Linked DNA regions of Homo sapiens. The protein of the gene in region 1 binds, or shares a complex with, the protein of each later gene. Each region holds a gene or a part of one and is shown on either strand. Other genes may lie near its edges.

What was found.
Region 2: PPP4R4 (region 1) and PPP4R2 share a complex: the UniProt entries of both Homo sapiens proteins name them as parts of the PP4 complex.

Annotation. Positions count from the first base shown.
Region 1 is NC_000014.9:94,233,322-94,240,321, forward strand, and holds part of PPP4R4 (serine/threonine-protein phosphatase 4 regulatory subunit 4), read left to right. Parts: intron 1-331; coding exon 332-438; intron 439-1,240; coding exon 1,241-1,348; intron 1,349-4,243; coding exon 4,244-4,365; intron 4,366-7,000. UniProt on the Homo sapiens protein: Putative regulatory subunit of serine/threonine-protein phosphatase 4.
Region 2 is NC_000003.12:73,062,811-73,079,578, forward strand, and holds the end of PPP4R2 (serine/threonine-protein phosphatase 4 regulatory subunit 2), read left to right. Parts: coding exon of another isoform or gene 1-90; exon of another isoform or gene 91-527; intron 528-862; coding exon 863-937; intron 938-1,192; coding exon 1,193-1,336; intron 1,337-2,041; coding exon 2,042-2,331; intron 2,332-2,586; coding exon 2,587-2,912; 3' UTR 2,913-6,388; downstream 6,389-16,768. Other genes in the region: EBLN2 (endogenous Bornavirus-like nucleoprotein 2), read left to right, coding at 1-90. UniProt on the Homo sapiens protein: Regulatory subunit of serine/threonine-protein phosphatase 4 (PP4). May regulate the activity of PPP4C at centrosomal microtubule organizing centers.

The DNA.
Region 1 (7,000 bases):
CAAGGTATTTAGTCATTATTTGCTCTTTTCTTTTTAAAATATGTATTTCAAAATTCTACTTTTATCTGTGCATACAGAGCATTGTAAAATCACCATAAACTTTACTTCAGTTTTTTCCTAATTGTTTTAATTGCATAATTTGTAATTATCTTTACCTTAATAACTCAGAAGACAAATAAGATAATCCAAGTTATTGAGTCATGAACCTCAAATCGTAATTCAGGTTCTTTAAAAACATTTAGAACTTTAAAATACTCTGAAGGAATAGCTGACATGAGTGGCATGAATGTATAAAATTTTGTGAATTTTTTTCTCTAAATTTTCTCTTTAGATTTTGAATCCACTTGTTTCCAAGGCACAACTTTCCCAAACAGTCCAGTCTCGTTTAGTTAGTTGTAAAATTTTAGGAAAATTGACCAACAAATTTGATGCCCACACGTGAGTATTTGTATGTAATTTTCGGTCTACTTTATTACATTCGTTTAAAATGTATAATGACTGTGTAACAATATATTTGTGTTATTTCATACTGCATACAAATTTAGTTATCTTAACTATTTTAACTTTATGGAATTCTCATGACGAATTTACTTATTCAGATGCCTTTCTTTTCAATCTCATAACTTTTCAGAATTGGTAAGGTTAACTTTTTTCCTACTTCCTATCTTAATCTTCCCTATCTCATACCAAATATAGTTTTGAGGATAAAATAGCGTTATCTTATTGACTTTCAAAATTGGCAGCGGCATAAAGATAGAATTGCTGCTTTTTTACACTGTTGTTATGAATTTGTTATTTTGAATAATTTAACTTATTGTGAGGTTTTATGGAGCATGTTTATAATTCATGTGCTACTTCTTGCCTGCTTATTAAATACCAAATGAAAAGAATGGAATGTTTTATAATTATGATACAAGAGTAAAGCTGAAGAGTATTTTGGTTGATGGTTGCTAGACTCAGATATTCTACTGCTACAGCCTTTTATCTTAGCTATAGACATTTCAACTGCCAATCCAAAATTAACCATTATTTTAAAAAGACTGTGTGATATACATAATTTACAAGTAGCTAATAACATCCAAATTTAATAACATGTAAAATACCTTGTAAACTATTATTTTTTTTCTATTAAAGTACATTTGTTATTATTAAGGTGAGTTAAGATTTTAATGATAATTGTTTGGGAATATTATTCTGAAACACTCATTCATTTGCATGTTTCTTTTCTCCCCACCTTCAGCATTAAGCGAGAAATACTTCCTCTGGTAAAATCACTCTGTCAAGATGTAGAATATGAAGTTCGATCTTGTATGTGTCGGCAATTAGAAAATATAGCCCAGGGCATTGGGTAGGTATACTTTGAATTCCTTATGCCATTTCCATGAAAACATGCCATTGAAAGGCTGTATTTGATCTTTAAAAATGATCATAACAAGTACCTCCTCTATGTCTGGATTAAAAGAGATAAAGAGGAATGTGCTTAGCATGGTGGTAGGCGTTTGATTAATGTTAATTTCTTTTTTTCTCACCTTAGTTGCTTAGTTATCATTCCAGACACCTAGATTCAGGAAAGAAAAGATAGCCCAATATAAACCATACTTGGAATATGTTTGACTGGCTATTCTTTGACTATATTATTGGGTCATTTCAGATGGGATTGCAGTTGTCCCTCCATATCCTTGGGAACTTGGTTCCAGGACCTCTTTTGGATACCAAAATCTGAGGATGCTCAAGTCTCTGATATAAAAGAGTGTAGTATTTCCATATGACTTGCTTATATCCTTCCACATGTTTAAAATCATCTCTAGATGCTAATAGTACCTAATACAATATAAATGCTATGTAAATAGTTATGCTGTATTGTTCAGGAAATATTGACAAGAAAAAAGTCTGTACATGTTCAGTAAAGAAGAAATTTTTTTCTGAATATTTTCTATTCATGGTTGGTTAAATCCACAGATGTGGAACCTGCAGATGTTGAGGGCCGACTACACTCTAATGGAAGCCTTTCTATAGCTCCTGTGCAACTTCAGGCTTCCAATGTTTGTTTTGTTGCTCTCCTTGTTCTTTTTTTTTTTTTTTTTTTTTTTTTTTTTGAGAGGGAGTCTCACTCTGTCACCCAGGCTGGAGTGCAGTGGCGCGATCTCGGCTCACTGCAAGCTCCGCCTCCCAGGTTCATGCCATTCTCCTGCCTCAGCCTCCCAAGTAGCTGGGACTACAGGTGCCCACCACCACGCCCGGCTAATTTTTTGTATTTTTAGTAGAGACGGGGTTTCACCGTGTTAGCCAGGATGGTCTCGATCTCCTGACCTCGTGATCCGCCTGCCTCGGCCTCCCAAAGTGCTGGGATTACAGGTGTGAGCCACCGCGCCCAGCTGTTGCTCCCCTTGTTCTATGGGTGCCTGAAGCTCCAGGAGAGGCATAGCAGCCAATCTCTTCACCCATAAGAACTGATCTCATTTCAATCTTAGAAGTGTGATATTAAAGGGAGTCTTACCTAAAAACCATCTTGGGAAATCTTTTCTTTTAAAAACAAGATTCAAAATTGGTACAAAAATCATTGGAACCTCTCATTTTTAGCAGAAGTTGCACTGATTTCATCTGGTTCTTTGTTGCACAAGCTAGGACAATCAGATTGTGGTCATTGGTACCTTTGTTAATTTTTTAAAAATCTGGGCCAATATTTAAGGCTCCGAAAAGGCTTTTGAATGTCACACAGGGTATGGTAGAGTGTCACACAGGGTATGGTGGAATGTCACACAGGGTATGGTAGTGTACTCTGTCCTGTGTCCACTGTTGCTAAATAGTATTTAAGTGTCGTGTTGGAAGTTTAACACAATTAATGAAAGAGTTATCTGTTATGATTATTTTCTTTTTTAATGCCCAGAGATAATTAAGTTGAATTTGCATCACTGTCACATGTTTTTGAAAAAAAGAGAACTCTGTTTAAAGATTGAATGGAAATAACTTTTACTATAGAGATGAAATTATTTTTCTTAAACTATTTTCTTTCATTGTTAATAAATTCAAGGATTTCAGTAGGTATACAAATATATTCTGAGCAAAATTTATATGAAATAAATTTTTATGAACTTTGGATTTGTTCTATCACATTTTACTCTTCTACCTCCTCTGTCTATATCCTGTATTTGCTGAATGTTTGTGAAGTACTGGTAATGTTAACATCTCTATCTGTATGATCTAGATCAATCTCTTAGAAAAACATGTTTTTTTGTGGCTCTTCAATTGCTTAAGTCCTTGTCATTGTGGTATGCTGCCTAATATGGTAGCCCCTAGTCACATGTGGCTATTTTAGTTTAAAATAAGGAAAATTAAAGAAAATTAGAGCTTTAGTTCCTCATTCATAATAAACTTATTTTAAAAAATGCTCAATAGTACCCTACTGAAGAGTACAAATGATAAACATTTCCATCATTGGAGAAAGTTCTACTTGACAGCATTGTCTTAGAGTCTTTGAGATTTGCGCTGAAATTTTTAAAAGTTTTCTACAACTCTTAATAACTTTCTTGGACTCTATCAACATCTTATGTCAATTATAATTGATGCTGTTTTCCATCTTGTACCCAAGAAAGCTAACCACATCACAAGGCTCTCCTTGATCAGAGTGTTTGTCATTACAGTGACACCTTATCATGAGGAATAAGCAGAAACAAAATGTTGAATACAAACTATTTGTGATTGTATTATAAATATTGTATACTCCCTAAAAGTATTTATATTATGTTTCATTCTGCTAGGTAGGACACCTAGAGTGATATATCATCTTCTATATAGAAATTAGTTACCATAATTTCATGTATTAGGTGAATGGAAAATAATTTATACCCTGAAATCTAGATAGAAATATATTATTTAGGTTTCTGCAGTTACTACTGATAAGTTTTTCTAATTAGTCCAGATTTTTGCTGAAGTTGCTTAAAATGGAAAACTATATTATAATTTATAAAGTTTGATATAAACTCTTAGTTATTAAGATTTCTGTAGGTAACAATATTATGCTGGAGGAAGTGGGATTGATTGAAATCATTATGAAATTACTATTAATGTTTCTTATATGTATGGTGTGCTTTCCCAATAAGACTGAAAGCTTCTGGAGAGCAGGAACAGTATCTTTATGATTTTTCATATTTTCTGCAGCAACTAGCCCAGTCACTGGTTTTTAGTAAGTTCCTGCTACACATTTATTGATTTGATTTATTTTCTTCTATTGCTTATTGTGCAGGACAGAACTTACAAAAAGTGTGGTGCTCCCTGAATTAATAGAACTTTCTAGGGATGAAGGCAGCAGTGTACGACTTGCAGCTTTTGAAACTTTGGTTAATCTGCTTGATATATTTGATACAGGTAAATCATGTGGCTACATCTTTGCTTCTGAAAACAGTGTTTTTCTACATGTTTTATGTCACTAATAAGGAATAAAAGTAGATTTAGAATTTCCTATGTTAAGCCTCCCTTCCTCTCCCTCTTTTTATGATTCATTCTGTTTTCGTGTCTTCTTGGCTTTCACTTTTACCCTCATGGTGTCGTAGTCCATTTTGTGTTGCTGTAACAGAATACCTGAGACCAGGTAATTTATAAAGGAATTTATTTTGGCCCACATTTCTAGAGGCTGGGAAGTTCAAGATCAGGCAGCCCCATCTGACCTGTTTCTGATGAGGGCCTCATGCCACCTCGTAATCTGGCAGAGAAGTGGAAGGTGAAGCAGGCCTGCAAAAGGGAGAGGGAACAAAAGAAGCTGACTTTGTAACAACCTGCTCTCCAGAGAACTAACCCAGTCCCACGAGAGCTAACCCAGTCACTTGTGAAGGAGATCTCAATACCACAGGAACTTCACCAGTCAACCCACGAGGGTGGAGCCAGTGGGTGGACCCATGCGGCCCCACCTCTTAAAGATTTCACCTTCCAGTATTGCTGCACTGGGGCCAAGCCTTGACAGGCATTTTGATGGAGACAAACCATATTAAAACCAGTACCCTATGGCATACAGTGTTGCTACATATTCCATCTCTCTTTTCTCCCATCAAAACTTAACTGACTTGTGTGTGTATAGGGCTAAGAATTTGACTTTAACTTTTTCACCTAATTGACATTAAGACAGATCCTGAGACATTGTCTACATGAGTTTCCTCTCCTTAATAATATTTTAATGCTAGAGATCTCATGGCCATTGGGGGAGAAATTTGGGATGGGGTATTTGAGTGGGAGAGGGTAAAGAGATATTCCTTAGTGTTATGTAAATCATGTCACAAAGACAGTTAACTGCTCTACTGAATGTATGGCTAGACTCTTGACTAATGCTGGATATTAGTTATCAGTAAACATTAACTATTTTGATAAAGAGAAATTTGGAGGAGTAAATGTCAAGTACTTAGGTACAGAATTCAATCGTATAATTATAGTATTACATTTACTTGGATTACCAACATTTTATCTGAACTCTAGGAAGCCTCTTAAAGATTATTGCAATATGGACAATAATTGTGTTTGGAAATTCCAGAACAGTCATTTAGACAATATGACAAACCAGAGGAGTAAAACTGCAGTACATGATAAGTGAATGAATAAATCTTTTTTCCTCTAATAATGGGGCATCCCCAGGCTCCAAACTAGAACCTTGCCATCATCTTTGATCTTTTCTCTTTTACTGCCCACACCCATTTATCACAGAGCTGGGCCTAACCTGTGTTTGTGGCTTTATTTCCTACCATTCTTTCCCACTCCTCTTGTGTCTGATGCTCCAGTCCCACTTCCTTAGCATACCAGATTCTTTCACACCTCTAGTCTTCTCTCATACTTTTTCTTTCTCTATTGTTTCCTTCCCTCTATTTTTGTCCTAGCCAACTCCTTCTGCTTCTTTTTTTTTTTTATTATTATAGTTTAAGTTCTAGGGTACATGGGCACGACGTGCAGGTTTGTTACATATGTATACATGTGCCATGTTGGTGTGCTGCACCCATTAACTCGTCATTTACATTAGGTATATCTCCTAATGCTATCCCTCCCCCCTCCCCCCACCCCACGACAGGCCCCGGTGTTCGATGTTCCCCACCCTGTGTCCAAGTGTTCTCATTGTTCAATTCCCACCTATGAGTGAGAACTTGCGGTGTTTGGTTTTTTTGTCCTTGCAATAGTTTGCTGAGAATGATCCTTCTGCTTCTTTAGTTCCCAGTTTAAATACAGTTTCCTCCCTGACATCTTTCTAAATCCTTTACACCAGGGGTTGGCAAACTATGGCCCTTAGACCAAATCTGGCCCACCGCCTGTTTTTGTGAATAAAGTTTATTGGGACAGAGCCACACTTATTTGTTCACATATTGTCTGTGGCTGTTTTTGTGATGCAAGAACAGAGCTGAGTAGTTGAGACAGAGCCTGCAAAGCCTAGAATATTTACAAAAAAAGTTTATAGATCCCTGCCTTATACCAGCTATTAAGACAGTGATCACATTGTCTTATATTTTTTGTGTTTGGCTTTTTTGCTGGTTTACATTTCTCAAAATCAGAGACCATTTATTATTCATATTTCTACTTCTACTTAGTTACAAGGCTTGTTCTGTAAGAAATACAGTGTGTTGAATGAATGTCATTTAACAAAAATAGTAGATATGGCACCGAAATGTAATGATAATAGTAATAATAATACTCATAAGCCTGTTATAGCATTTTATTTAGTATTTCTAGATAATAAAGAAGTGATTCATTTCTGAAATTTAAGAAAACTGTGAGAAATTTGGAGAGCATTTAGAATTGAGACTTAAAAATCACCAGTATGTCAGATACTTATGACCTAAGCAGATGTACTCAAATAATTGATTAATTTTTTAAAGAAGAGCCATCTAAGAAGTAAAAGTGATGAAATTCAATACATAGAACATATTATAAGCTAATGTAATTTTAGTAATAAATGAAATGATAAAATGGGCTTAAGCTGTAGCATGGTATGAGATGTGTGTAAAAGAGAATAAGAAAAGTTTCCTTTGCT
Region 2 (16,768 bases), on another chromosome or scaffold:
AGCTCAAGACCATGGGTTGGAGAATTAATGTTCACACTTCTATTTGGAGACTTTGAATCCCCTCTACACAAGCTACGCAAGTCAAGTTAGTTGCCAAGAAAGCACAGATGACAACCTATTAATGCTGTGAGAATGTTTCTAGATCAGTGCATGGATGGCTCCATTGCTCTACGGGCCATTGTGTCTGAGATCCCAGTCTTTGAGGAGAAAAAAAACAATGGTTAAAAAGGCATTGGGGAAATATTTTGAGTTTGGGGGTGTACTTTGCCACCCCATTATTGGGGAGCTGTCACCACGAATGTTCCCAAACTTAGCAACAGCGGCAAACTACTGGGCCAAGATGAGCAACCCCACATTTTTGGGATTTAAAGCTCCTGATGTTATACCAGGATCAACCATCACACTCCCTTTGCTTCAAATGGCATCTACCCCGTAAGATCTTGAGGGGGGAGTGTTGGGTGGAATCATAGATCCATGCACTCCTAACATGAACTAATTCTCATTATTTAAAAAAAAAAAAAAAAAAAAAAGTCCAGGTGTGGTGGCTTAACGCCTGTAATCCCAGCACTTTGGGAGGCCGAGGTGGGCCGATCACTTGAGGTCATGAGTTTGAGGCTAGCCTGGCCAACATGGCAAAACCCCGTCTCTACTAAAAATAAAAAAAATAGCTGCGCATGGCATCACACGTCTGTCATCCCAGCTACTTGGGAGGCTGAGGCATAAGAATTGCTTGAACCTGGGAAGTGGAGGTTGCAGTGAGCTGAGATTGCACCACTGCACTCCATTCCACCTTGGGTGACAGAGCCAGACTCCATCTAAAAAAAAATTAAGTCATCCACAAGTGTATTTTCTTTTCTTATAGGAAAAACAATTCCAATAGTTTAAATCGAATGAATGGTGTTATGTTTCCTGGAAATTCACCAAGCTATACTGAGAGGTGAGATTCTAGATTTTTAATACCTACAGAGTTTGCATTGTCCTGATTTTGAGTAGCAGGCTTAGTGTACTTTTTAAAAATTGGGCATTTTATGGACACCATAGGATGAACTACATAGAATTAGTTAATTTGGTAAGGCATGGGCCTGAAAACAAAGTTGCAGCAAATACTTCTGTGATGTATTCACATCAACATACCTTAAGAGGGATGACTTTTTATAAAAATAGGAAATGATGTTCATTTATCTTATTATAGGTCTAATATAAATGGGCCTGGGACACCCAGGCCACTTAATCGACCAAAGGTTTCTTTGTCAGCCCCCATGACAACAAATGGGTTGCCTGAGAGCACAGACAGCAAAGAGGCAAATTTGCAGCAAAATGAGGAGAAAAATCACAGGTTTGTATGTTTTATATTTAAAAACAGTGTTTTTATTAAAAGTTAAAGTTAACATTTAATCAGTACTTATCACTTACTATTTATAAGTTCTGAGGGACAGAACAAGGTTTTCATGCGGTTTATAGGAGCACTGGCTTCTCTTTGCAGCTGTAGCAAATGTTGAAGGTGGACATAGACAAGACTTAAAACTGCTAATTTGTGGAGACTGTTTATGTAGGGTCTAAAAGTAACGTAGATATGATGATCCATTTCATTTGTTGTTTCTGAAAGTTACTTGAAAAGAAATGATCTTTATAAATAAGTTGATTTTTGTGAGTCGTTTCTCATTGTAGTTCATAAAAGGACACCTTTTGTTTATATCTTCAAATTTTCTGTATCACATTAAGGGAAGGAAGACTAAATGAGGGAGAGGACTTAAGAGAGTATGTCCGTATGGAAGACTTGCGGGTTTATTGTAGGAGAATATTTAACTTACTGGAGAATTGCACAGAAAGGTCATATAGCTTTTCTGAGTCCTACTGGGAATTATTCATCAAACAGTTTAGTTTACCTTGAAATTATTCTCTTGTGTTTTTCTTTGTTCAGGTGTTATAATTTAACTTTGACACTGAAATACAATTTAAAACATTATTTAACCTTAAAAATGGGGATGTAGAAGATGGGGAAAATAATCTTATTAATGACACTTTAAAAAAACATTTACAGTGACTCTTCGACCTCTGAATCAGAAGTTTCCTCAGTGAGCCCTTTGAAAAATAAACATCCAGATGAAGATGCTGTGGAAGCTGAGGGGCATGAGGTAAAAAGACTCAGGTTTGACAAAGAAGGTGAAGTCAGAGAAACAGCCAGTCAAACGACTTCCAGCGAAATTTCTTCAGTTATGGTAGGAGAAACAGAAGCATCATCTTCATCTCAGGATAAAGACAAAGATAGCCGTTGTACCCGGCAGCACTGTACAGAAGAGGATGAAGAAGAGGATGAAGAGGAAGAAGAAGGTATTTAGAGACCATCTGTAAAAGGGTGGAGTAAGGAGATCCTCAAATTCTTGTACTTCATTTTTTTCGTGAAAGAATTTTACGTAATGGAACTCCTTATAATGCTGATGTTGGGCTTTTCTCCCACCTGTATGTAGTTGCTGCTGAATTTCAGGGGATGTGATTTGAACTATAGAATATCAGAATTCATGAAACTTAACTGTGGAGGTATTTTGAAAATACAATTTAACTACAACAACATTTGCTTATTTTTAGAGTCTTTTATGACATCAAGAGAAATGATCCCAGAAAGAAAAAATCAAGAAAAAGAATCTGATGATGCCTTAACTGTGAATGAAGAGACTTCTGAGGAAAATAATCAAATGGAGGAATCTGATGTGTCTCAAGCTGAGAAAGATTTGCTACATTCTGAAGGTAGTGAAAACGAAGGCCCTGTAAGTAGTAGTTCTTCTGACTGCCGTGAAACAGAAGAATTAGTAGGATCCAATTCCAGTAAAACTGGAGAGATTCTTTCAGAATCATCCATGGAAAATGATGACGAAGCCACAGAAGTCACCGATGAACCAATGGAACAAGACTAACTATTTAGAAACATTTAGATGCAGTATTTTACATACAGTTCTGGTTTTAACACTGTATAAAACTTTTGTGTAATAAAATGGACCTTTAGTTTTACAAGAGAAGCAGGTTGTAAAATAAAGTACTTTATGGATAATTCCTGAAAGAGTTGTACATGTAAGAACTGTGAATATCAGCTCCTCTGGGTCCTGCTTACCTTACCGCTGACTTTTCTTTCTTTCTTTTTTTGGTCTGGGCAAATCAGTGGTTTGTGTATAGATTTTTTTTTTTTTTTAATTTAGGATTGAAGTTTTTAAACTGGAAAGTAATTACAATTTTGAAAAGTTTTTTGAGATTATCACATTTAGTTTATACATATGCAAGAAGCTTTTTGTCTTGTCTCTTTCTGATAGCTCTAGCAGTTTTCATATTTTGGTCATAGTTTCAACATTTTAACATGTGAATTATAGGGTTTCATGCTGGTTTCCAGATTTTATTGTTTGGCTACGTACAATGGAACTTTAAGTCATATATACATACATATATATATATATATATATATAATTCTAAGGGGGGAAATGTTATATTTTTCTGTTTCTATAAGAGATGAATACAGTGGATACTTTTTCTATTGGTAATGATTGAGTTCACCTCTTTCAGAAGACATTTTCTTTCTCTTCTGAGTAATTGAAATAAAATCTGGCCCTTGTGAAACCCTGGAAATCTTAAGTCTGTTGAAATACCAGGTTAAACACATTCCAAGAGATCTGTTCAAACTCAAATTCTTTTGTATACTTCTGAGGTGCCTGAGAAAAAGACTTCATTATTTATGAGAAAATATGCTTTATCTTGGAAATTGTGTTCAAATGTTAGCTTACTATTTTGTAGAATGAATGTTTATGAAGCTGATATGAGACCATCTCAGAAGAACCAAGTAGGTTCCTTGACCTTTTGCTTGCTTTTCTGAACATTGTGAATATTACACATGTCTTTCTAAATTATTCTAGGGTATGCAAATGTCAATGGTATGAAACACCACTGTACTGGAAGAATTAATATATTACTTTAGTATGTACCTGAGCTAAATGACTGAAGCTTTAGGGGTGCATAGAAACCACCATAATTTGTATGACATTTTGAAGTGAATTAAATATTTTTGAACATGCTTCTTCGACAGCCAGTGTTATATTTTTCAGATCAACACAAAGCACAATGATTACTCGAAATTCAGTATTTTCAAATTTACATATTTAAAGTCATGCAAGCTGTAACTTCCCTGTCAAAATTACTGGCTGCCAAATTTATACCTGTTTCTTCAGCTGTACCTTTTGATATTTAAAGTTTTTAAATTTCTGTAAAGTAGATTTTGTAGAATGTAATGTGTTCACTGCCTTTGTGAAGCGGTATATAATTGTATAATTTCTGTGTGTAAACTGAATGCTTGGGCTTTCAATACAGTATTCATATAAAGCAATAAATATTAATGTTATGAAATATTTGACTACATTTTTATCAAAATATGAAAGAATCCCCCCTTTTTTAGTTTCAGATACCTGAACTACACAGATGAGCTTCTAAAACTGATGCAAACAGTTTCTGACACTGTATAATATGCTTTTGGGTGATTTGGGGGGCAACCACAAGTTTTGCGTTTTGACTACTTAAATCATCATGGCTATAAATACCAAAACGATTTGGATCCATTTATGTTTGTAGGATAATATACTACTGACTGACTTGACTGTCAGGTTCACAACAGCTAGATGATATATTTATGACTATGTCTAATAGTTGAAATAAAATCTGAATATTGATTTACTATACCCAAGAGGGGAGAAAAATTAACCATTGTAAATTTTTAAAAAATTTTTCAAAAATGTTAAAATGAGGCAAATTTAAGTTTACAAATTTTGAAATTTTCTTTTGAATATTTATGAAATTGTCAGTAAACTTACCTAAGATCCTGTGACCTTTTGATATTTTTTATTTTAATTGTAGTGCCATGGACCATTTGTAAACAAATTGATTTACTTTTGTTGGTTGTAAGTTGAAGATTTAGCATTATGACTTTGAGGTCTGTGGTTTTATTTGTAAACTTGCAATTGCTATATTTGCAAGGGCAAATGTATTTCTTTATTAAATAAAGTACAATAATGGTGAATGTACCAAAATGACATCACTTAACTCTATGAGAGATCTGCATTTTAATCTATAGTTTAATAGTTTTAATATTTATTAGATATTCATATGTTGATCATAGATCAAACTTGTTGCTGTTTATACAGATAATTGTAGAATGCTCATGGAATATCTTTAGGGTAGGTGGAATACTTCTGTAGTTAAATTGGGAAACCTTGTTCAGCTGGTTTTAGATATTGATGGCCATTTGGAAGTAAATTTCCGCAGGTATTCATAGGTGCACTTAACACAGACTTTGCTTAATGAAAATGTCAGTTCTAATAGTAACTGATTCACTTCTGAACAGAAGTGATTTTAGGCATATTTCTTAACATATATCAAGCAAAGTCCTGTTAAAAGATCTAAATGAAGAATGGAGACCTCAGTGATTAAAGATATTTTGTTTCTGACCTTGAGCAGATTGCTTACCTGTTCTCTAGACTATAACCCAACATGTAAAAAAAATTTGAAGATGGTGATGAGGAAAGTGAGATATATATATATATATGTATTATGTTTCTAGCACTTTTCCCTTTTAAAAAGTGAAAATATCCTTGTACATTTTTGAAAAATATATTTTCAGTTCTGAAAAATGTAGCAGAAGTAGTGAAAATGTCATATTTTAAATGTTGATTATTAGATAAATTTAACCTGCTTAGGGTTTATTGTAACTACACCTTTCAGACGTGTGTTTTGGAGTAGTGGAATTGCCAGCCAGGCCCTGTGGCTTGGAAAGGCATCCCAGAAATCCTCGGCCAGAAGGTGTGGCTTGTTAAAGCATTGAGATTCAGAGTATTTTGTTTTGCCGGTGTAGATAGGCATGTATTTATGCATTTTTGCATTTGTAAAATCAACTTTTCAAATAATGTAAATGTAATATACTAGTTTACTTAAAGGTACTTGGGCAGAATCTAAAGCTGCTACAATGTTTGATTATGAAAAAAATGTAACATGGTAAGGATGAAAATGCAACTTACAAAACCAAAGGAATTAAAAATTTTCGGTAGTGTTTCAAATTGTCTTCTGAACAGGAATTTAACATTGGTTTTGATGAAGGTGAGGGTCAGTTCTCAAGATTTGTGCTAATCATAAAATGAATGAATGCAAAACACCTTGTAATTTCATATGGAATTATAAAAATTAGGTTTGCTGGGTTTTGGCCTAATAAGAGTGCTAGTATGTATTGGTTAGACTACATCTTACTATTTCACATTTTAAAAATCAGTACACTCTTCAGGATTTTCTTTTATTTCAACTTGGAGCCTAGATTACTTTGCCAAATGTATTATTTTCATAATGCAATAAAATATAAATTAGAATATTTCTATGTGTGTAATTATTTTATGTGCCATAATGGTTTATTTGCCCTGCTGCCACTCCGACTCCCCCCCAACCCCCCCAACCCCCCCCGACCCTGCGCCACCACCCACCTCAAATCCTTAACTGAGGAAACTCAATGTGTGACTTTGTTACAGCCCTGTTTCTTACATGGTGACAAAGTGTTCCAGCAGGACTTGACAGTTGTGGTTCTTTGCCAGGCAAGTCATGCTGATTGTCAACAAAATCCAGATTTAAATAAGTCTCCACTGGTATAATTTGGCACTAGCTTACATGTATATATTTACAATATTTGTGTTAATCATTTTAAAGGCTGGGCGCAGTGGCTCACGCCTGTAATCCCAGCACTTGAGGCCAAGGCAGGTAGATCTCTTGAGGCCAGAAGTTCGAGACCAGCCTGGCCAACATGATGAAACCCCGTCTCTACTAAAAATAACAAAAATTAGCCAGGTGTGGTGGTGGGCACCTGTAATCCCGGCTACTCAGGAGGCTGAGGCAGGAGAATTGCTTGAACCTGGGAGGCAGAGGTTGCAGTGAGCCGAGATCACACCACTGCACTCCAGCCTGGGCGACAGATCGAGAGTCCGTCTTTAAAAATAAAAAAAATCATTTTTGAAATCCCACCTTCAGGCAACTACATGGTAAGAAGTGTAGAATTACCTGAAGTGGAGAGGAGGGTTCTGTTTTCAACTGTGGGTCTCCTTTCCTATGCTTCTTTTTGTTTTTGTTTTTGGGACGGAATCTTCCTCCGTTGCCCAGGCTGGAGTGCAGTGGTATGATCTCGGTCTCGGCTCACTGGAACCTCTGCCTCCCGGGTTCAAACAATTCTCCTGCCTCAGCCTCCTGAGTAGCTAGGACTACAGGCATGCACCACCATGCCCGTCTCATTTTTGTATATATATGTTTTTCGTAGAGATGGGGTTTCACAGTGTTGGCCAGGGTGGTCTTGAACTCCTGACATCAGGTGATCTGCCCGCCTCAGCCTCCCACAGTGCTGGGATTACAGACATGAGCCACCATGACTGGCCCTCTAGGCATATTATCGCACAGTAGCTACAGTAGAGGGTAAGATCTGTGGCTCTGAACTAAGGAGAGTACTAGTCGGTGTGTTTCTAACCTTAAGAATGTCTTAGTTTTCAGCTTCTCATATTTGATCTCTTACCCCCACTTAATTTTGTTTACTAAATAGTATAACTAGTACGTAGTTCAGGGCTAATGATGGGAAGACTGATTTTTCCACTGGCTAGGAATAAACTGCGTGAACTCTTCCCTATTTAAAATGAAGAGTATGCAATTCCCTTTTATTCTTCAGAACGTTTTAAGTTTAAACTTTAGCAGTAGTTTGTCATCTTTAGGTTTTGTTTGTACATTTTCAGAGTTTTTCTTCCCATAACTAAAAGTAATGAATATTCCAAAATGCCAGCAATTCCCTGTATACTAGTCTGCCATCTCCACTGTTTTACTCATCTTTGTAACCTCACAGGCTAGCCCCATGCTTGACAAGTGATAACAAAATTGAAAGCAAGTGGTAGGTCCACAGCCCACTTTAGATTCCTATGTTTTACCGATTCTGTGTCTACTTTGCCCACTTCAAGTGTGCTAAGGTCACCCCTGCAACTTTGCTACTAGGTTTGTGGGATTGGGAGCAGTACATTCTGTTGAATGCCCTTGCCAGGAAATCAGTGGGCAGTTGGATGGTATCACCAGAAAGTGAGCATCTTAACAAAGGAAATTTCCGTGAATGAGACCAGCTACCCCCTGCCTATAGAAAGCACAATAGCACACCCGCCTCTTACAGGGGATAGGTGCTGCTACAGGAGGATATATCATTAAATTACCCAAGTCCTGCTTTAGACATGGTATAATGGGACTTGATATTCAGTAATACTTGCAGCAAGAAATTTTTGCAGTTGAGTAGGCTTGTGAGACTTTTGATGCTGCCTATAATCGCTGAGAATTTGAAAGATAAATATGGGTTCAGTATTCTGTCTTCATTTTGGATGATAACTGTTTTTCTTTGCATTTCATGCAATGCTACAGAGTGGAAGGGTAAGCTTAGTTGGTGACTAACAATTCCCATGTGTATTTAAGAATGCATGCAGTTTCCCACTTTCAACCTGAAAACGTTACTTGATTGGAATTCAGAATACAGTTTCTCATGTAAATTATTTAAAATGTGGCTAACTTTGAGGCTATTATACAAGAAGCTGTTTAGGCCTTAATGTTGAGTGTATTACTGTGGTTAAATGTAGCAATTGTAACATTTCTATTGAAATATGTGGGTCAGTTTCCACTGTGGGTTTGTCGAAAATGCCTCTCCCACAGCTTTGGCAGTGCAAGTAAAGACTGAAGGTGGAAGTGTGTTAAGATCCAGCAGCTCGCCAAATATGTCAGTTATTTTAAAGTCAGGGATTTAGCATAAACTAAATATATCTCAATATTGGGTGATTCAAACTGCAATAGAATTTGCAGTGTCTTGGGATCATTATGATGGTGGTGTTTTGAATATTAGAAGTGTATCCAGATATAGGAGGTAGGGAATATTTTCCAGTATATTTCATAAGTTCCCTCTAAAAAACAACAGCACAGAAAGATTTCCAGGTGTTTTGAGTATTCATTTGGAATTTCATGAAATGATGACTATCAGATTTCACTTATCCCAACAAAGGGAGTTAAGAAGAGGTAGACAAAACATACAGATGGAGAAAAGCATGTCTGTTGTTAGGTAGCAACTTTCATGAATTGTGTATTTGGGGGGCTAAAAAGAGTAGATTTAGTCCAATTTCATATTTGAGGAATTCAATCACCCTGAAGAAAATAAGCAATGCAAGATTTTAACAAATTGGTGTGTGACTTGCATAGGTGCACAGGAGAACCATATTGGTGCAGCTGTGGCAGTCTGGGAAGGCTTCTCAGTTGAGGCAGGTTCTGCTTGGCCTTAGGTGAGCAGGACCATCAGGTAGCATGGTGTAATGGGCAGAGGAGAGTGGCATGGGAGTTGCACGATATGGGTTAAGTCACAACTTCACCATTCCCAGCTGAGGCATTTTGTGTAAGTTACAATATTTCTTTGAGCCTAGTTTTCTCATCTGGAAAATGGGTATAGTTATATCTACCTGGTAGGATTGTTGGAAACATTAAGTGACTATGGGTATAAACTACATCTGGTCCAGCACCTGATGTTTCTTTTAAGGGAGAAAGGAGAAACATGAAGGGAAGAGGGGAAGATACTGGTTGTCCCTGGGGAAGACAACAGTTTTTTTGGAATCAAAGTTGAGATTTCAATCCTGGTCAATGCTAGGATAATAATAAGCACTAATTGAACACTTACTTTATGCATGACATTATCCTTAGCACATATCACGTATTACCTAATTTAACCATACTATCAACCCTGTGAGGTGCTTAATCTTATGCCCATTTTATGGATGAGATAAGGTGAAGAAAGGCAACTTGCCCAGGGACCCTTTAAAAGTGGAGGGTCAGAATGAGAATCAGTGGCTCTGCCTCCAAAGCCCAGTGGTTGTTATCCATTATGCTTAGGTGCTGGCTAGTCTTGGAGGACTTGTAGAATTAGGGGGAGGGTGACCCTGAGGAGGTGAACCGCAGAGAGGAAGCCATGCCTGGTGGCTGAAGATTCTCAGAGCCACTTCCAGTTAGTTGCCCACATTCAGAACATCAAAAAGCTTCCTCATCATTCACAACAAACCCAAGCTCTTGGTTTCACATTCCATGTATTTCACCATCTGTTTTCACCTGATCCTTCTAAATGGATCACCCATGATTTTCCAGCTAGACATTTTGAATGCATTATCTATTTTAAAAATAAAATTTAAAAATTATTTAAAAATAGGTAATGTTTACACCTGACAAAAATTCAAATAGAACAAAATAGTATATACTATTTCCATCCACCTACCCTTGCTTCCAGATCCCTTGGTTACACCCCTCTCCCCCATGCCCCAGGCCAGTCTTAACAGTGGGGCAGAATGCTCCAGGACTAGGAGCCAGATTCCCTGGGTTTTCATCCCAGCTCTGCCATTTTCTGGCTGTGTGATCTCTGTGCATCTGTAGAAAAGGGGGATGAGGCCCTTACCTCACAGGGCTGTTAAGAGGATTAACCGTTAGAAAAGGATCAATCGTTAACTACTAGAAAAAAACATACTTATGCACTTTCAATTACTAACTGGTAGATAGTAAGCCCTACCTACAAATGAGTTCAAAAAAACAGCATTTTGCAGGCCGGAAGTGGTGGCTAATGCCTGTAATCACATCACTTTGAGAGGCCAAAGTGGGTGGATCATTTGAGGTCAGGAGTTCAAGACCAGCCTGGCCAACATGGTGAAACCTTATCTCTACTAAAAATACAAAAACATGAGCTAGGAATGGTGGTGTGTGCCTGTAATCCCAGCTGCTCATGAGGCTGAGGCACAAAGAATCACTTGAACCCAGGAGGTGGAGGTTGCAGTGAGCTGAGATCACGCCACTGTACTTCAGTCTGGGTGACAGAGTGAGACCCTGTCTCAAAAGAAAAAAAAGCATTTTGCAGAAATGTCCTGTATCCTTCAGCCTGGGTGACAGCAAGACTCCGTCTCACCATAAAAAAAAAAAAAAGAAAAAAGAAAAGAAATGTGCTGTACCTTTCTAGAGATAACTGCATACTCTGGCAAGCACAAGGTGGCCATCACTACCTCTCCCCTACTCCTCTTTTCTTTCTTGTTTTTTTTTTTTTTTTTTTTTTTTTTTTTTTTGAGATGGAGTTTCGTTCTTGTTGCCCAGGCCGGAGTGCATGATCTCGGCTCACTGCAACCTCCGCCTCCGGGGTCCAAGCGATTCTCCTGCCTCAGCCTCCCGAGTACCTGTGACTACAGGCGCCCACCACCACACCCGGCTAATTTTTGTCTTTTTAGTAGAGACAGGTTTCACCATGTTGGTCAGGCTGGTCTCGAACTCCTGATCTCAGGTGATCCACCAGCCTTGGCCTCCCAAAGTGCTGGGATTACAGGTGTAAGCCAATGTGCCCAGCCTATCCCACTCCCCTTTTCATAGTGAGTTCACACTGAACCCATTGAGATGGATGCACCTGGTCTTTTTTTTCCTTCCCCATTTACTGGAGTTTTGTGATATTCCAAATCAGTACCTAGAAAGTGCTCTAGTCACCTTAGCAGCTTCATAGTCTTTCAGTATATAGATGAACCATAATTAATTTAACCAGTCCCCTACTAAGTGATCTCATAGTATTTTGACTTGTGACTATTACTGGCTCGGTTCAAGCAGTTTGAGATGGAGACATTTAAAATCAGCGCCCTCTGGAAAGAAAAAAACAAGTCATTAAACTTTTAAGTGTTCTTTGTCGAATTATTAGGTAATGTGAAATAGACATCCTTGCACCTAGGGATGTGGTTGGAGGTGAGAATGGAACCTTATCTGGCAGGCAAACCACATGCTATATTCCCAGTCATCTAAGATGGTAACATACACCATTATTTTATGTAAAGTAAGGAAATAAGCCACCCACTGAAACAGGACACGTGCCTGCACAATGCATGGACTGGTCACAACAGCCTCTCCTGGCTTGACATTTTCATTTCTTCAGAGGAATTTTGTGGGTATTTTCCTCTCTTAAGCTCTGCAGAGCTCTTAGTTTTGGCTTGGCAAGAAAATGTGGAATTTCAGTCATCCCCACAATGACAAATACATGCTCTTCTAATGTCAAAGTTACTCCTTCCTGCTCTGTTTCCTTGACTTTTGGAAGGACATGCTAACTTTTTGTCTCACTGTGGAGTCAGTATAGTCCTCCTAAAGACATTTCCAGTGGTGATTAATTTCAGTATGTGTGCTACGCCAGCAACGCACATAACTTCGATTGGATCAACCGCGATGACCAACTTTGCATACGTTCTTGCAACAGCAGCAGCCACAGGGATTTATGCATCGAGATTTCTGAGACAACAAAACCAGCGTTCTGGAGTCAAACATCTCAGAAAGAGCCATCAATCAATCCAGGCAGCGATCTGCTCATTTGTTCATCCACAGATGTTTATTAAGGGATTTCTTATGAGTATGGCCCTGGGGTAGTTAATGAAGACAGACAAACAAGATAAGTAAAAATATATGTAAGATGGTGATAAGTTCAATGATCCTAAATAAAGCAAGAAAGAAAGAAGGGTTGTGGGAGGAGGTAGTTCTATTTCAAACATGGTGTCTCTGAAATGACATTTTATGTTGAGTGCAGTGGTTGTCCCCCACAGAGGGGCTCGGTTCCCTTGAAGACAGCAACTGCCATCTCTGAGAACGCACTTGCATCTCGAATAGGGTCTCTAATTCTTCCATCTCTCTTTCTCATACACATGCACTTTCAATTACTAATTAGATTTGGTTTCTTAATCATGTAACTGAATTATTTTCCATTGCACCAAAGCAGATATTCAGAGATATATTTTTAATATGTAGAAGTATACATATTTATGAGCATACTGTCACATTCTCTCTTTTTTTTTTTTGGAGACAGAGTCTTGCTCTGTTGCCTAGGCTGGAGTGCAGTGGCGCGGTCTCTGCTTACTGCACCCTCCGCCTCCTGGGCTCAAGCAATTCTTCTGCCTCAGCCTCCTGAGTAGCTGGGATTACAGGCACCCACCACCACGCCCGGCTAATTTTTTTTTGTATTTTTAGTAGAGATGGGGTTTCACCATGTTGGCCAGGCTGGTTTCAAACTCCTGACCTCAAATGATCCGCCCATCTTGGCCTCCCAACATGCTGGGATTATAGGTATGAGCCACTGCACCTGGCCTACTGTCACATTCTCTGTCTGCATCCACTCCTTGACACCCAGGTATTCATGAGTGCCTGGGGCATTGCTCAATTAAAGTTTGTTAAATAAGTGAACTCATTAAAAGAAAATTAGACAATTTTAAATGGTTAAAATGTCAAAATGACACAAAATTCTCCTTCCCACTCTTGTCCTTATCCCCCTTGCTCCCAATCTATAGGTAACCATTTTTATTAGTTTCTTGCTTTTAGTATTTCCTGATGCAAATACAAGCAAATTAAAATATATAGTGGCTGGGTGCTGTGGCTTATGCCTATAATTCCAGCACTTTGGGAGGCCAAGGCAGGAGGATTGCTTGAGCCCAGGAGATTGAGGTTGCAGTGAGCCATGATTGTGCCATTGGGTGGCTGGGCAAGACCCTGTCTCAAAAAAAAGAATTAAAACCTATTATCTTAGAGCTGAGTTTGGCGGCTCATACCTGTAATCCTAGCACTTTGGGAGGCTGGGGCAGGAGTATCACTTGAGGGCCAACCTGAGCAATATAGCAAGACTCCCATCTCTACCAAAAATAAAAATTAGCTGGGTATGTTGGCATGCACCTGTAGTCCCAGCTACTTGGGAAGCTGAGGTGGGAGGATCACTGGAGCTCAGGAGTTGGAAGCTGTGATGTGCGACAATCTTGCCTGTGAATAGCCACTGCACTCCAGCCTGGGTGACACAGCAAAAACCCTGGTCTCAAAAACACCCAAAACAGTAAAAAGAAAATGTCTAGTCTCTATCTATCTATCTATCTCTATCTATCATCTATCTATATCATCTATATCTCTATCATCTATCTATATCTCTGTCATCTATCTATATCTCTATCTATCTCTATCATCTATTTCTCTGTCTATATCTCTATTATCTATATCTCTAGCATCTGTCTATATCTCTATCATCTATCTATGTCTCTATCTATCTATCTGTAGTCTTATTTCTCTTCCTTACACAAAAGTAGCATACACCTTGCTTTTTACACATTTTTTTTTTTTTTTTTGAGACATTGTCTCACTCTGTCACCCAGGCTGGAGTGCAGTGGCGCGATCTCAGCTCACTGCAACTTCTGCCTCCTGGGTTCAAGCAATTCTTGTGCCTCAGCCTCCCGAGTAGCTGGGATTACAGGTATGTACCACCATGCTCGGCTCATTTTTTTTTGTATTTTTAGTAGAGACAGGGGTTCACCATGTTGGCCAGGCCGGCCTCGAACTCCTGCCCTCAGGTGATCCACCCACCTCAGCCTCCCAAAGTGCTGGGATTACAGGCCTGAGACACCGTGCCTGGCCTTTTTTCACTTAATATATCCTGCTGCTCACACCATACTCCATGTAGAGATCACTCTTGTTCTTTCTTTCCTGTAGTCTCTAGAGTGGATGTACACTCCACTTGTTTCCAATCAGGATTCCCAGAAGTGGGTCCTGTCAAAGGTAACGGCTTCAGTAATTTGGGTAGTTCCTATCAAATTCCCCTTCCTCAGGCTTTATGTTCTGTTCTCCCACCAGCTGTGTATGGGGGTGCCTGTTTCTCATGGCCTCACCAACAGTGTAGGTCTTTCCCCAGGTTGAGGGGCTATTGGTATTTTTCTGTGACCTCTCAGTTCACATCCTTTGCCCATTTTCCAAATTGGGTTGTTGGTCTTTTTCTTTAGAATTTCTAGAACATTTCAGAATTTTCTTTAGAATTTATTTGATAGATTATGGAAATTAATCTTTGTGATGTTACAATCATGTTGTTTTTCCAGTTTGTCTTTTTCCTTTGATCTTTGCATAACAAAAAAATCATAAGCAAATTATTTTTATATATTTGAATTCATGAGTTTTTTCTTTTTAATGGTTCTGGATTTTAAATTAGTTTTAGAATGGCTTTCTCCATTTTATTTTATTTTATTTTATTTTGAGACAGGGTCTCACTCTGTCACCCAGCCTGGACAGGGACAATGTGTGATCACAGCTCATTGTAGCCTTGACTTAGGCGGGGCTCAAGTGATCCTCCCACCTCAGCCTCCTAAAGTGCTGGGATTACAGGCATTAGCCACTGTGCACCATCTGGCTCCTCCCATTTTAACTTATATGGTTTCATTTCTTATATTTAATGTTTGATTTTCTTGCAGTGCTTTTTATCCTGATGCGTACTATGAGGTTTGGATCTGTTTGTCTTTAGGGCCCAGTACCATTTATTAAAAACTTCATCTTTAGCACCCTGATTTGATATGCCACCTTCATCACACAGTAAGTCCTGGGTTCATTTGGATGTATTAATATTTCTGGATGTGTTCTGTCTGTCCATTCGTGTGCTGATACCACACTGGCTTAGTTGCTGATGTGTACAGTGTTTTACATTCTAGTACAGCTGCTTCCTTTTTGTTCTTCTTTTTCTGAATTTTCCAGACCTAATCTTGCTTATTTATCTTGTCATATCCACTTCAGAGTCAGCTGTGTGATTCCAGAAAAAAATGATCTCTTGCTACTTTAATTTGGATCATAATACTTTATTTATTTATTTATTTAAGACAGAGTCTCACTGTGTCACCCATACTGGAGTGCAGTGGTGCGATCTTGGCTCACTGCAACCTCCGCCTCCCAGGTTCCAGCAATTCTCCTGCCTCTGCCTCCCGAGTAGCTGGGATTACAGGCACCTGCCACCATGCCTGGCTAATTTTTTATATTTTTAGTAGAGATGGGATTTTGCCATGTTGGCTAGGCTGGTCTCAAACTCCTGAACTCAGGTGATCCACCTGCCTCGGCCTCCCGAAGTGCTGGGATTACATGCGTGAGCCACCATTTCCGGCCTCATAATACATTTTAAAATTAATTGTGGAAGAATTTGCATCTTCAGGATGTTGAATCTCTCTAACCAAAGACATGGTATACCTTTTTATTCAAGTTAACTTTTGTGACTTCAAAAATGTTTAAATTTCCTCATGGAGGTTTGCATATTTCTTGTTCAATTTGTTCCTGAGTGCTTTATCTATTTTATTTTCTAGTTCAGGGATCATCAGCAAACTACAGCCCGTGGGACCACTGCCTGTTTTCTTATGGCCTGTGAAGTAAGAATAGTTTTTATATTTTAATGATTGGAAAAAACACAAAGAAAAGTAGTATTTTGTGACTTGTGTAAAAATTACTTGAAATTCAAATGTCAGTATCCATAATGACGTTTTATTGGAATGCAGCCACTGCCATTTCTTTATGTATTGTCTGTGGCTCCTTTCTTGCTAGGACTGCAGTAGAGCTGTGACCATGTGGCCCACAGAGCCTGAAATATTTACTATTTGTGCCTTGATGGAAAAGTTTACTGGCCTCTGTTCTTTTTTTATTTTTTATTTATTTTTTATTTTTTGAGATGGCGTCTCTGTCGCCCAGGCTGGAGTGCAGTGGTATGATCTCAGCTCACTGCAACCTCCCACTCCCGGACTCAAGCAATCCTCCCACCTCAGCCTCCCGAGTAGCTGGGACTACAGGAGTGCACCACCACTACTGGCTAATTTTTTATATTTTTAGTAGAGATGGGGTTTCGCCATGTTGCCCAGGCTGGTCTTGAATTCCTGGGCTCATG